Linked DNA regions of Homo sapiens: regions 2 and 3 are each reported to be linked to region 1. The links are microRNA targets in miRTarBase. Many come from high-throughput screens and were not tested one by one. Region 1 holds a microRNA gene; each other region holds the end of a gene's coding sequence.

Region 1 (4,353 bases):
CATCTTTTGAGTTTCTGTTGTATGTGGGGACTTCCTACACTGGCTGCTGTGAAGAGGTATGGAAGAAAGGAGAGGCTTTCTGCCTAGAAATTCTTTGAGAACACCTGAAAAGACAGTTTAATCATGTCACAACACTCTTAAGGCTCAAGTCAGTGTTCTGGTTTCCGGTAGCTTTAGGATTGGATTCTAAACGAGGGCTGGTGGTGAGTTTGGTGTTTGTCTCGTGTCACCCTCACCCCTCACCTCCTCAGTTTAGGATAAGAGACATAATGATTTCTACCAGAATCCAAAGTAAATCCAAAGGGGGAGAAAAGACATAACTGTTTTTTCTTCTACCTTTTTTTTGTTAAAGAGTTACATCTCTCACAGGAGGAAAGAATTCAAGAGTCTATATGATTAGTTACAGAGAATATTTTCATCCCCTCTCCCTGAATAGAAAAGCAGGGGTCACCATTTGTATCCTTACCCTTGAGGTGTTTTTGAAGATGCTGTAACTCTTGAAGTTGAGCTGAGGCAGAAAGGTTGGAAAAATGCAGCCCTCTGGGTATTGTGGGGAGGGATGTGATGTAGTAAGAGGGTGTTTTGTGGTGCTAGGATTCCCACGCCACCAACTTGCAGCTTTATAAGAGCGCTACCAAGAACCACCACTGGGGAAAAGGTTCTTATTCATTGTTTCTGTTGGAATGTGATCTTGCTTTCTGGATTTTAGGAATTCAGGTTACTCAGTATAAAACTCTGAGAAATCAGTGTGACTTAGTCCTTCACCTCCTAAGATAAAGTGAATATTTCTTTACAAAATAATTCATGTCCTTAATGTTAAAGATGTAATTTTATTTTCAAAACATCTATAACATGACTTTCAGAAGCAGTTCATTTTTCCAAGATTCCTCACATTATACTAGATAAATAATAGGCCCTCAGTTAATACCCTTCAGTTATTGAATTAATCTAGTTTGTGGAATGAGGTGTATCCTGCCAACTTCCCTCTGCTCCCAAGTACACTCTGAGAGGTAAAATGCTCTGGGAAATGGAACAAGAATCGAGTGGATGCTGACTCTGTGTGCCCACCTCCTCAACTGATTGATAATGGTTGACCTTGGGCAAGTCACTTCTTTCAATGCCTCAGTTCCCCATCTGTCAAATGGGGTTAATAATACTGACCTACCTCACAGGGGTGTTGTTGTGAGGCATTGTAAATCAAAGTTAATAGAATACTTCAGGGTCCTCTGTGGAGGATGTCTTGAGCCAGAGTTTAAGCCTGACACACAGGCTTTGGTCCTCACTGAGCTGTCTCCAAGACTGGAACTACTTAGTGACTCGGCAAATTTTCTGCCCCCCACCCCTCATCAAAGCTGCTAGTTCAGATGTTGACAGTGTTTTCATGAATGTTGGAATCTTACTAGTCCAGACTTACTTAGGATGTTGTTGGGGAAGGCACTTGGGATTTTCTGTGTCTTGCATTCACAGAGGGAGGCCATTTCAGATTCAAGAGCATTGGATTAGGGAATCGTGAGGCAGGGATGCTACTGCGTATTTCTCTCTGCAGGTTGGGGATTAAAGTTCCTTTCCCCATGGGTTTGAAGCAGACTCAGACTGTCTCAGGATCAAAGCAACCCTCAATGGTTTTGATTTATGTCATTGCTTACCACTCCCCAACCAATCCCAGGACAGCTGGGTCACTGTACCCCTTTGTGGTATCTGTACCTGGGCCTCTCCTTCCTCATAGGGACCAGCTGATTGAATAAATGTGACCACCTTATTTCCACCCCCCACCCCCAAAAGCTACATTGGAATTATTTTTCCTAGAAATGTGTATAACACTCAGAATTGGGCATTGATCCTTAAAGCTTCATCCCATTCACCGTATTCAACATCTGTCATCTCTTAGTGTCTGCAGTCTGAACCTAACCTTGACCTTTTTTCCCTCTGGTTTGAGAAAACTTTGGACACTATTTCTACTTGGCCAGGTGTGGGCTCAAGAGCCTTACTCTTTCCATCTCAGTTTAGGGGCGCAGCCAGCTCCTCTTCCCAATAGGGCTCTTTCTGCTTTCCCTCTCCTTGGCCCTAGATTTGTAATCCATGAAAAAGCACAAGGTCCTGGCTCCTTGCGGTCACATTCTGGTTCTCTGTGTTTTGTGGACTCTGCTCTCACTGTTCACCCAGCACTAGCAGTACCAGATGGTTCTGTGGAGTCCTGGGGAATGGAGAGAGCACAGTCTGACTCCCTGCCAAGTAGCCAGGAGTTGACTTGCCCATGGTCCGCTGGCTTTCCCACCACTTCCTACAGGATGGGATCTAAGAGACTCAAGAGCTGGGTTTCTTTCAGCACTCTGTACTGTCCCAAATAGCAAACAAATCACTTTGTAGCCAGATTTCTGAATGGAAATGAGAAATTGAATTCTCCATGGACTTTTAGGTTTATGGGGGAGTTTTAGCTGTGTTTCTTGGTTTTATTTCAGCCAAACATGTCTGCTTTTGATTTTTTTTTTAAAGTATAAGTGGTCTATATATATGTTCACCTTTTAAATGTAAATGTTTAAAAAGTAAGCATTTATGTGTTTCCATAACTGACATCTGATGCAGACCTCATTCTCTCCCCCTCTTCTACCCTCCTCTTTTCCCCCTTTTCATACTCTTGTATTGGTTCTAATAAATGGTTGCTTTTCAAATATGGATTCTGAGTGGTGGTTTAAAGATCTGGGTCTTATGCCCCTTCTTTAATTTGGGCCCTGGAGTGTCAGCTCAATTTCTGAAAGAGCAACAAGACTTGGAGAACATGGGCTTCTTTTCTAAGGATTATTGGTCTCTGACTTTCTGCAAATAACCACAGGTTGGCGCAAGCCTGAGGAAATAAGATAATGCGTATCCTGTTTCCTACTCTTATTTCCTTAACTGGTTCAGTGTGTACCTTTCCTGGTTTCCATGCTCTTCTCTGCTCCTAATGGTTCAGAGAATAAATATTAGGCTTCAGCAACCTAGGGATCCCTGGAAGAGTCATCTCATGGCTATTAGAACTTATGGAATACCACATCAAGCAAATGCAGTCTAAATCAGGTTTGAAAATATGTGAATTTGTAAACTTTGTATTTTATCTTTCTGATTTGCTTCACAAATACCAAAGAAACTTCTCTGAGGATGGAAGGCTTGCAGGTCAGGAACATGGTGTGAGGTCAGTTGGAAGTTAGGAGGAGGAAAGTATGTGGATAATCAAGAAATTATCGAATAATATAAGCCTGATGTAGCCCTGAATCTAATGGAGATAGGCAGAAACTCACAGAAGAGAGAAGTGAGGAAGATGAAGGGGTCACCAAACCCAGATATCCTCCCACTGATATGTGAGGCCTCTGGAGCGGAGCACTTGTTTCTACCATCTCTTACCTGCAATTCTCCCCTCTTGTTTTCCTTTCTTGCTGAGTTATAGGGTCTCCCCAGTCTAATCTCGTAAAGTCTTATGAAGACATCTGTAGGTTGGCTGGCTTAATGGTCCATGACCTCATAAACATGGGACAGGAGAGCCATTTGGTCCACTTCAGAGCCAGACCCTTCTGGACATTATTTATTTCCTACCATGGAAGCCTGAGACTGCTTGCCCTCTTCCCTTTCGATCTCTTTCTTGCTCTCTAAACATCATGTCACTTTGTCTCTGTCTCAGGCCCACTGGAAAGCACAACTCCAGGGTTTTGACACCCACGCTTGTATTCCTAAACTATGTCTTGGTTTTTGTTTCCCTCAGTGAGGGGCTGTGCCTGCATGGCGTTCATTCAGATGACCTCATCATTGCTCATAGCTCTCCTCCCAGGAATCTTGCCTCAGTGTGCTGGAGAAGTCAGGAACTGGGCAATTTTGCCTCTCCTTTTGTCTTCATTAAAGAGCTTCAGAGCTTGTGAAATCAGTGCAGCACTGGCAGCCTGGGGAAAATGGAGGATCACTGTGTGGGAATCCCCTTCATTGGATCACTGAGCACACAGTTCTATGTTTTTCTTTTTTTTTTTTTTTGAAATGGAGTCTCGCTCTTTTGCCAAGGCTGGAGTGCAGTGGCGTAATCTTGGCTTACTGCAACCTCTGCCTCCCAGGTTCAAGCGATTCTCCTGCCTCAACCTCCCGAGTAGCTGGGACTACAGGCGCCCACCACCACACCTGGCTAATTTTTGTTTTGTTTTGTTTGAGACAGAGTCTTGCTCTTGTTGCGTAGGCTGGAGTGCAATGGCATGATCTCAACTCACTGCAACCTCCGCCTCCCGGGTGCAAGCGATTCTCCTCTCTCAGCCTCCTGAGTAGCTAGGATTACAGGCGTGAGCCACTGTGCCCAGCCTAATTTTTTTTTTTTTTTTTTTTTTTTTTTAGTAGAGACAG
Region 2 (4,353 bases), not on the chromosome of region 1:
GTAAGTTCCACTTGAGCAGAAGATAAAGTTGTAGTCGTGGGGCAATCTGCTGCCACAAACTGGTGATACATACCTTTAAAATGGCTGTCTGTCCAAGTCAAGGGATGGGGTTGATAGCATCTGTGTCTGTTCCACAACTGCCTTTGAGCTGGCCCTTCAGATGCCTATGAATGAGGGTGCTTAAATGGTGTTAGAGGTTAAGACCAATGGGTAGTCTGTATTCCTGTGGTCATAGCATTAATATTTCAGTGTTGCCCATGCTAATGTGTGAATGTTGGATTTAAAGCTGACGTTCTTAGAGGTGGGGCTCTGCTTTATTTAGCCTAGTGAATCTTAGGATTTTTCATCGGCCTTCAGTCACTAACTCCATGTCTTTATTCTTTGCAGCTGACATCATGTACACAGGCACGCTTGACTGCTGGCGGAAGATTGCTCGTGATGAAGGAGGCAAAGCTTTTTTCAAGGGTGCATGGTCCAATGTTCTCAGAGGCATGGGTGGTGCTTTTGTGCTTGTCTTGTATGATGAAATCAAGAAGTACACATAAGTTATTTCCTAGGATTTTTCCCCCTGTGAACAGGCATGTTGTATTATATAACATATCTTGAGCATTCTTGACAGACTCCTGGCTGTCAGTTTCTCAGTGGCAACTATTTACTGGTTGAAAATGGGAAGCAATAATATTCATCTGACCAGTTTTCTCTTAAAGCCATTTCCATGATGATGATGATGGGACTCAATTGTATTTTTTATTTCAGTCACTCCTGATAAATAACAAATTTGGAGAAATAAAAATATCTAAAATAAATTTTGTCTGCAGTATATTTTCATATAAAAATGCATATTTGAGTGCTACATTCGAATAAATACTACCTTTTTAGTGAATGCTACATTTTTAATAAATGCTACAGTATCTCCGGAGATGAAGAACTGTCTTTTTAAAACCAATTGTCAGCAGTCCGCTTAACAGAATAACTTGGTTGTGCCACCCACAAACATTTCCAACACATTAGCAAAGGAATTCAGGCCCAGTGCATCCAAAAAACATTGTTCCATTGCCTATGGATGATCATAGCTGAATGAGCTTTCTCCAAGAAATACTGTGAACCCACCTTCTCTAGTCCTATGGTTATTAATCATGAGCCATGAGCTGAATTATCCACTTTAAAATGGTTACGTTTGTTGCATGAATATCACCTCATTTAAACTTTTAGAATCAATACCAATTTCATCCAGTTGCCTTCATTTTCACCTGGCTCAAGCCATTTTTTTTTTTTTTTTTTTTTTTTTTTTGAGACAAGAGTCTTGCTCTGTTGCCAGGCTGGAGTGCAATGGTGCAATCTTGGCTCACTGCAGCCTCCGCCTCCTGGGTTCAAGCGATTCTCCTGCTTCAGCCTCCCAAGTAGCTGGGACTACAGGTGTGTACCACCAAGCCTGGCTAATTTTTGTATTTTTAGTAGAGACAGTTTCACCATGTTGGCCAGGATGGTCTAGATCTCTTGACCTCATGATCCACCCACCTCGGCCTCCCAAAGTGCTAGGATTATAGGCGTGAGCCACTGTGCCTGGCCAGCTAGAGCAATTTTTTAAAATTTATTTATTTATTATCTATCTTTTGAGATGGAGTTTCTCTTTTTTTTTTTTTTTTTTTTTTTGAGACAGAGTCTTGCTCTGTTGCCCAGGCTGGAGTGCAGTGGCACGATCTCGGCTCACTGCAACCTCCGCCTCCCAGGTTCACGCCATTCTCCTGCCTCAGCCTCCCGAGTAGCTGGGACTACGGGTGCCCGCCACCACGCCCGGCTAATATTTTTTGTATTTTTAGTAGAGACGGGGTTTCACCGTGTTAGCCAGGATGATCTTGATCTGACGTTGTGATCTGCCTGCCTTGGCCTCCCAAAGTGCTGGGATTACAGGCGTGAGCCACCGTGCCTGGCCGAGATGGAGTTTCTCTCTTTCGCCCAGGCTGGAGTGCAATGACACAATCTTGGCTCACTGCAACCTCCCCCTTCCAGTTTCAAGCGATTCTGCCTCAGCCTTTTGAGTAACTGGGATTACAGGCGCCTCTCACCATGCCGGGCTAATTTTTGTATTTTTAGTAGAGACGGGGTTTCACCATGTTGGCCAGGCTGGTCTCGAACTCCTAACCTCATGATCTGCCCATTTCGGCCTCCCAAAGTACTGAGATTACAGATGTGAGTCACCACGCCTGGCCTCAAGCCATTTTTAATTCCATTCAGAGTAGAGGATTAGAGCTGGCACAGTTACATAGTGCTGAGATTGCAGTGCTGTTAAAGATTATGAAGAGGGCCAGACATTGGCCACGACCTCAAAACTAACCTTACAAAGAGGAAATAGCATCTGCCTTTTGCTTCATGCTAATAAGCCCAGTCAATGGAGGGCATTTATGTTTATTTTCAATAAACCCTTATTTGGAATCCATGTGACAGTGTTTGGACTTTCTGTATCTCTTGATTAGGGCTCAAATCCAGTGGATTTTGCCATGAGATTTGTACTAAGAATGCAGCATTATGTCTGTCAAGCCACAACTTTAAAAATGATAGAACGGGTGCTCCATGTGTACATGTAAAGCTCATTCTTGAGGAATATCCCACACACTGGCATGTATAAGAGCTATTCACAGAGAGGTCTGCATGGCATGGATGAATGCCCAAGGATCCCAGAGTTTATGTTTGTCCTCTGGCCAGGCACCTGAATCGTAGTATAGCTTAGTTATTAAGAATTCTGTTCTGGTATCAAAGAGGCCTGGGCTGAAGTTCTGGACTCTGATGTTCAGTTGTGTTAGGCCAAGTTACTTAATTTTTCTAAACCTTGGTTTTCCTTATCTGTAAAATGAGGCTATTAATAATGCCTGCCTCAGAGGGTTGTTGCAAAGATTAAATAATTTATGCCAAGCATCTACCATAGAACATAATAAGCATTACATAAATGGTGACTGACAGTTCTTAGGAGGCAGATTTCAGGGGCTCTAGAATCAATCAGACATACCTGGATTTTAATCCTGGCTCTGCTGATTACTGTGTGACTTTGGGCAAGTCACTTAATCCCCGGGAGCCTCAGTTTCCTCGTCTGTGAAGTGGGGATATAATAGCGCTTATATATTTCTTTCCTTCCTTTTTTTTTTTTTTTTTTTTTTGACACGGAGTCTCACTCTGTCGCCCATTCAGAGTAGAGGATTAGAGCTGGTACAGTTACATAGTGCTGAGATTGCAGTGCTGTTAAAGACTATGAAATCTTTAACAGCTGGAATGCAGTGGTGCGAGCTCGGCTCACTGCAACCTCCGCCTCCCAGGTTCAAGCAATTCTCCTGCCTCAGCCTCCCAAGTAGCTGGGATTACAGGCATGCACCACCATACCTGGTTAATTTTTGTATTTTTAGTAGAGATGGGTTTTCGTCATGTTAGCCAGGCTGGTCTCAAACTCCTGACCTCAGGTGATCTGCCTGCCTTGGCCTCCCAAAGTGCTGGGATTACAGGCGTGAGCCACCTCTCCTGGACTGCTCATATATTTCTTAGGGGTGTTGTGAGTGAGGGTTAAGCATAAGAAAGCATGTAGAGCCAGAAGTATGGTGCCTGGCATTTAGCAAGCACTCCGATGTGAACTTTCACATAATACGGCACCCAGGTTTGTTGAGTGAAGATTTGCCCAAGTACAGCACTGCTTAAGAATGAATTCAAGCTCACCTTTCTTTTTCTGCAACAGACTAGATATACTATATTGTGTAGCATTTATACAAAATAAACTTCAGGTTAGTTCTTTTTCAGTTGTAGATTTTATTCTTGAAAGGGGATAAGAGGCTCTCCAGTAAGGGCTGCATACACGATGCAAGAGGAGCCAAGCCCCCTTTATGGTTATTACAATAGATGTGGACTCACTGAGCTGGCAGCTATTAAAATAAACCTAGGACCAGGCATTAATGATCAGAAAGCAAGAAGTGGTGCCTCCTGCAATTGGGTAGCTGACATAGATGAGGTGGGGGTTTTTTTTGTTGTTGTTCTTTCTATTCTTGTTCAATGATTTTTGAAATTTAATTTAAAGACAAAGTGGTTTTAATCTCTCCAAGCTGTGCAGGATAGTGCTATAGAATTCATTATGTCCATTACGCTCATGCGAACGTTGATGGTACACAATCTTAGCAACACCCTAATTTATGCCGTTGTTTTGTTACTATTCAATACATAACAGGATCCGTGAAGCCTGATTCCAGGTGAGAGAGCCAGAACACAGGTCAGCTTGTGCACAGCCGTGCTTCCTATTCCAAGGGCCCTCTGCACTCAGTGACTGGAAGCAGCGCGCTACGGGCGCTCCGGACCGCCGGAGAAAGAAACGAGGGGTGT
Region 3 (4,000 bases), not on the chromosome of region 1:
GGAAATGAAATAATGCAAGGTAAGGACTAGCACCGTCCTGGCACATGGCATAAAAACCTGGTAAATGTGAGCTCTTGAAATGGAATCTGTACCAGAATCTCTTTCATCTTCTAGGACTTCATGTTATACTTGGTTCTGCTTTTCTGTCATTTTTTTCTCTAGATTAGAGCAGCTACCGTTGTTGAGCTCCCTGAAGAGTTAGAGGCATTGCTTTAATAGAGTCTGTGTCAGAAGGCTTAGTGGCTATGGGTCTAGCTGATATTTTCCTTTTTCTCTGCCCCCTTCCTCTTCTCTCCATCATCTGCCATCTCCTATCCTCATATTCCACCAACTCTGGTCCCCTCCTCACTCCCCTTCAATTTGGATCTGGCACCATATGTTTACGGATCAAGATAATTTGTTGCCATGGAGTTTGATTGCCTATTGCCAACTTAGGCCCCATCTATGCAGCTGAATTTCTCAGCTCAAACCAAGCCCATGCTTGTGATGGGTCTCTAAGATTTTGGGTAGTATCCTGGATATCAAAATGTCTATATCTGTATGATGTACTTCTCCTGCCAGAGGCTTGAAAGTAAAGAAATTGGGCTATATTTGCCTAATTAAGTTGTGGGTGGACAATCCTTATGTCTGTCTCTTGGTCTCTCTTGGCCACCTAACATCTCAGTTTTCTTAAACTGTCCCAGTTTACTCTGTTGTTCTAAAGAAACCATTAACAACATCCCCTTTCTCTCTCAACAGTGTTCTGTTTTGGAAGATATATTGTAAGGTCACCCTGTCTTTTGGGATTGGCATATATTTAAGCCTCTTTTCAAATATGGAAAAGATGGTGGGTTACCAGGCAAAAGTTTTTCAGCACAGTACAATAACAAGAACCGTGAGAAGGAAGGTCAGAGTCAAGTTTCAGAAACAGTGCTTCAGAAGGTTTTCTTTCTGTAGTGCAAACAGGAATGTGTTTTTATCATAGCAAGTAGTGCTTTGGAAGACTTGGAAGAGGCTTGCCGCACAATTGACATTTTATGTGGTCAACCCTTATTCAATGGAAAAGTATAAGCTAAAAATATTCAAGGGAAACACACACACACACACACACACACACTCCACATGTTGTTGATGCTTTTGAAACCTCTCCTCTTCTTTTTCTCACCTCACTTTGTGTGACTGGGTGGAATGCATCTTCCACAAAGTGGTGTGAATGAGAAATCTAATAATACTCAGAGCTCAAAGGAGCCGTCACAGCTTGTTCATCCTAAGATTGTGCAGCCATGTTCAAATACAATAGAAAGAAAGCATCCTAGGAGCTGAGAGGGGAAACTCTTAGCTTTGTTGGCGTCAACTATCTCTATCTGAACAGAAGAGACGCAAGCTGGTGTAAGTGCCACATGCTGTCAAGCCGTGACAGTGACATGGGACCACAATGGATAAAAAGAGACAATGAGCACATGTGGCTGCAAAGGCTGGACTGCATGTGGAATAATGCCTTCATCTACAGCAGCTGCAGCTACGGTGGAAATTCAGGGCTCCTCAGGCAGGCCTGAGGAACTAGGTTGACAAGTTCTCCCCTACTTGAGAGAGGAATATACATTCTTGTCATTACTCATGGTATCCACCATGTGCTAATCAACTCTTTCCCTTCCGCATTCTAAGAAGGGACACAGGACCATAAGAAAGGCAATGCAAAATGCTGCCACCTGGTACATGGCTGAAAGGGAAAGGATAATACAAACGCAGAAGGAAAGGATAATACAAACGCAGAAGGGAGAGAAAGGCCAAGAAAACAATGGGTAGTTAATGTTTCTGCTTTATCTAGCAACAGCCAAGCCAGGTTTCCTAGGAAGTTGTGAACCTGCTGACTCTGAATGATGGTGTGATTTATAGTCAGCTCCAGGTTGTCTGTCTTTGACATTCCATTCACTCACATATTTGCATATTCAGAAGCTGTACGAGCACAAAAATATTAATATGAAATCCAATATACGTTACAGTAGAATGACATGTAATTTATTCATATAACTGACAATTAGGCAGTACTCAAAATTCATTTAAATAAGCAAGTGGTTACACAAACATCTAATAATACTAAAATTGATAGTCAGAAGGTATAAAATACCATGGGTATGAAATGCCATGGTAAATACTATTCAACAGACTACAATCATAATTCCAAACTAAATCATGGTTTTTAAAATGATTTTTAGCAGTTCTGGAACAATTTGACTTTTCCCTTTCTAAGCAACTTACTTCTTCCACTGATACAAGACAAGGTCGTTATTTTCAAGAAATATCGCAGAGTGACTTAGCTTAGGTTGCTCTCTTGAAACACATTTTCTTGCAAATTGTTTTTTAATATTGCCCCTTGACATAGAAAACAAACTAGTCAGCACTTAGTTCCCCAAGCAAATATGCTTGGATCAGAACAGTGCCAGGGTGTAACCCAGTTCCGCAAGAGGCAGGCAGTGAAAAACCTTTTGCAGCTTTTGAAATATGCTTATTTCTTTTCTGAGGCTTCAAGCATCATACACTTAGGCATCCAAGCCAATGAAGTTATGGGAATAAAATAGTTTGATATACAGATGACTATGACACAATTGCAACTGGGGTGAGGGGAAGTTACAATATAATTTTGCAGTACTTCAAACAAAAACAGCTCCTACCTAAAGTTACTTCTTGTAAGCCTCATGAAGCATAGCTATGTTTGCAGGAACAGTTTGGCTTATCATGTGTCTGTCTGTACTATTTTATTTATTTATTTATTTATTTATTTATTTATTTATTTATTTATTTATTTATTTTTGAGATGGAGTCTTGCTCTGTCGCCAGGCTGGAGTGCAGTGGTATGATCTCGGCTCACTGTAACCTCCACCTCCCGGGTTCAAGCGATTCTCCTGCCTCAGCCTCCCGAGTAGCTGGGATTACAGGCACCCACCACCACGCCCAGCTAATTTTTGTTATTTTTAGTAGAGACGGGGTTTCACCATGTTGGCCAGGATGGTCTCGATCTCTTGACCTCGTGATCCGCCCGCCTCAGCTCCCCAAAGTGCTGGGATTACAGGTGTGAGCCACTGCGCCCGGCCCTGTTTTGTATTATTTTAAAGTCTTATACTTTATCAGAATGAGGTCCAAGCATGAACCTGGCTTGAAGAGCTAGCAGCAGTAGTCATGAAACATTTCAATAAATTAAAAGGCTTTCACAGAATGAGATTCAGCTAAACCTCTTACATACAAAATACAGCTAGAGAAATACAATTCTTTAATGCTGAATTATGAGGGAGAGGAAAAAAAGTCTAAAAAAATAGAAAACTCTCTCCATACCTGGGTATCAAGGCAAGATGTAACACTGCATAATGCCACAATATGAGCAGTCACTGGATGACAGATACTCCAGAAACAGTGGTCTCTGGGGATCTCGGAATTATGACCAAGAGATGAAAACACTGTACCAAAAGGCATGCATACAATCACTGTGTGCATTCAATGCGTGAGCTGCGACCTAAGCAGAGATCTAACAAGACAATGAGGCAGTGTTCCAGGGTATCCATTAAAACCGGCGTGGGCAACTACATGTTGATTAAACCTTCCGAGGCAGCAAAATGTGGGCACAGCGCCATGTCTGGGTTCTGCAGCTGTTTGATGATCCTCTTGCGGAATTTCTCCCTCACACGATTAAATTCCATTATGTCCATGGGGTCCTCTTCGATCCAAAACTTATGAAATTCATGCATCAAATAGCCTGTTGGAGACAATACAATGATAAGAATGCAGGAGAAAAAAAAATCCTTAATCACATTCAAAATCATTCTGAATGCTGAGGAAGATGCTGAACCAAGCCACAGCAACCGTGGAGCTCAAAGAAGACCTCAAAATCTAGAAAATACCACTGTTTAAGATTATTCTTTAAAATCAGTGCAGTTGAAGCCTACCAATCTGCAAGCTTTTTGCAATTGGCCCTGGAATCATTCTCACTCTTCCCAAGCAGGAAGACAAATCAGTTCTGCCATCTCTT

Evidence for each region. Region 1 holds the annotated microRNA hsa-miR-3198 (GUGGAGUCCUGGGGAAUGGAGA, at 2,187-2,208, shown strand). A microRNA usually pairs through its seed, bases 2 to 8, with sites in the 3' UTR of a target mRNA and lowers its output. Matches are read on the target gene's strand: a 7mer-m8 pairs with bases 2 to 8, a 7mer-A1 pairs with bases 2 to 7 and ends in A, and an 8mer does both.
Region 2: miRTarBase lists SLC25A5 as a target of hsa-miR-3198. The part of its 3' UTR that is shown has no 7-base or 8-base seed match.
Region 3: miRTarBase lists ELMOD1 as a target of hsa-miR-3198. Seed matches in the 3' UTR shown: 7mer-m8 at 2,796-2,802.

The regions. Positions count from the first base shown.
Region 1 is chr12:54,229,262-54,233,614 of GRCh38, reverse strand. It overlaps MIR3198-2 (microRNA 3198-2), which reads left to right and starts at 2,139; the gene lies at 2,139-2,218. CBX5 (chromobox 5) reads left to right here. Exons shown (of 5, transcript NM_012117.3): 5 at 1-2,673.
Region 2 is chrX:119,470,514-119,474,866 of GRCh38, forward strand. It overlaps SLC25A5 (solute carrier family 25 member 5), which reads left to right. Exons shown (of 4, transcript NM_001152.5): 4 at 388-883. The coding sequence ends at 545. Among named protein-coding and RNA genes, the nearest start is that of SLC25A5-AS1, 3.6 kb to the left of the region's middle.
Region 3 is chr11:107,664,752-107,668,751 of GRCh38, reverse strand. It overlaps ELMOD1 (ELMO domain containing 1), which reads right to left. Exons shown (of 12, transcript NM_018712.4): 12 at 1,973-3,727. The coding sequence ends at 3,555. Among named protein-coding and RNA genes, the nearest start is that of SLN, 45 kb to the left of the region's middle.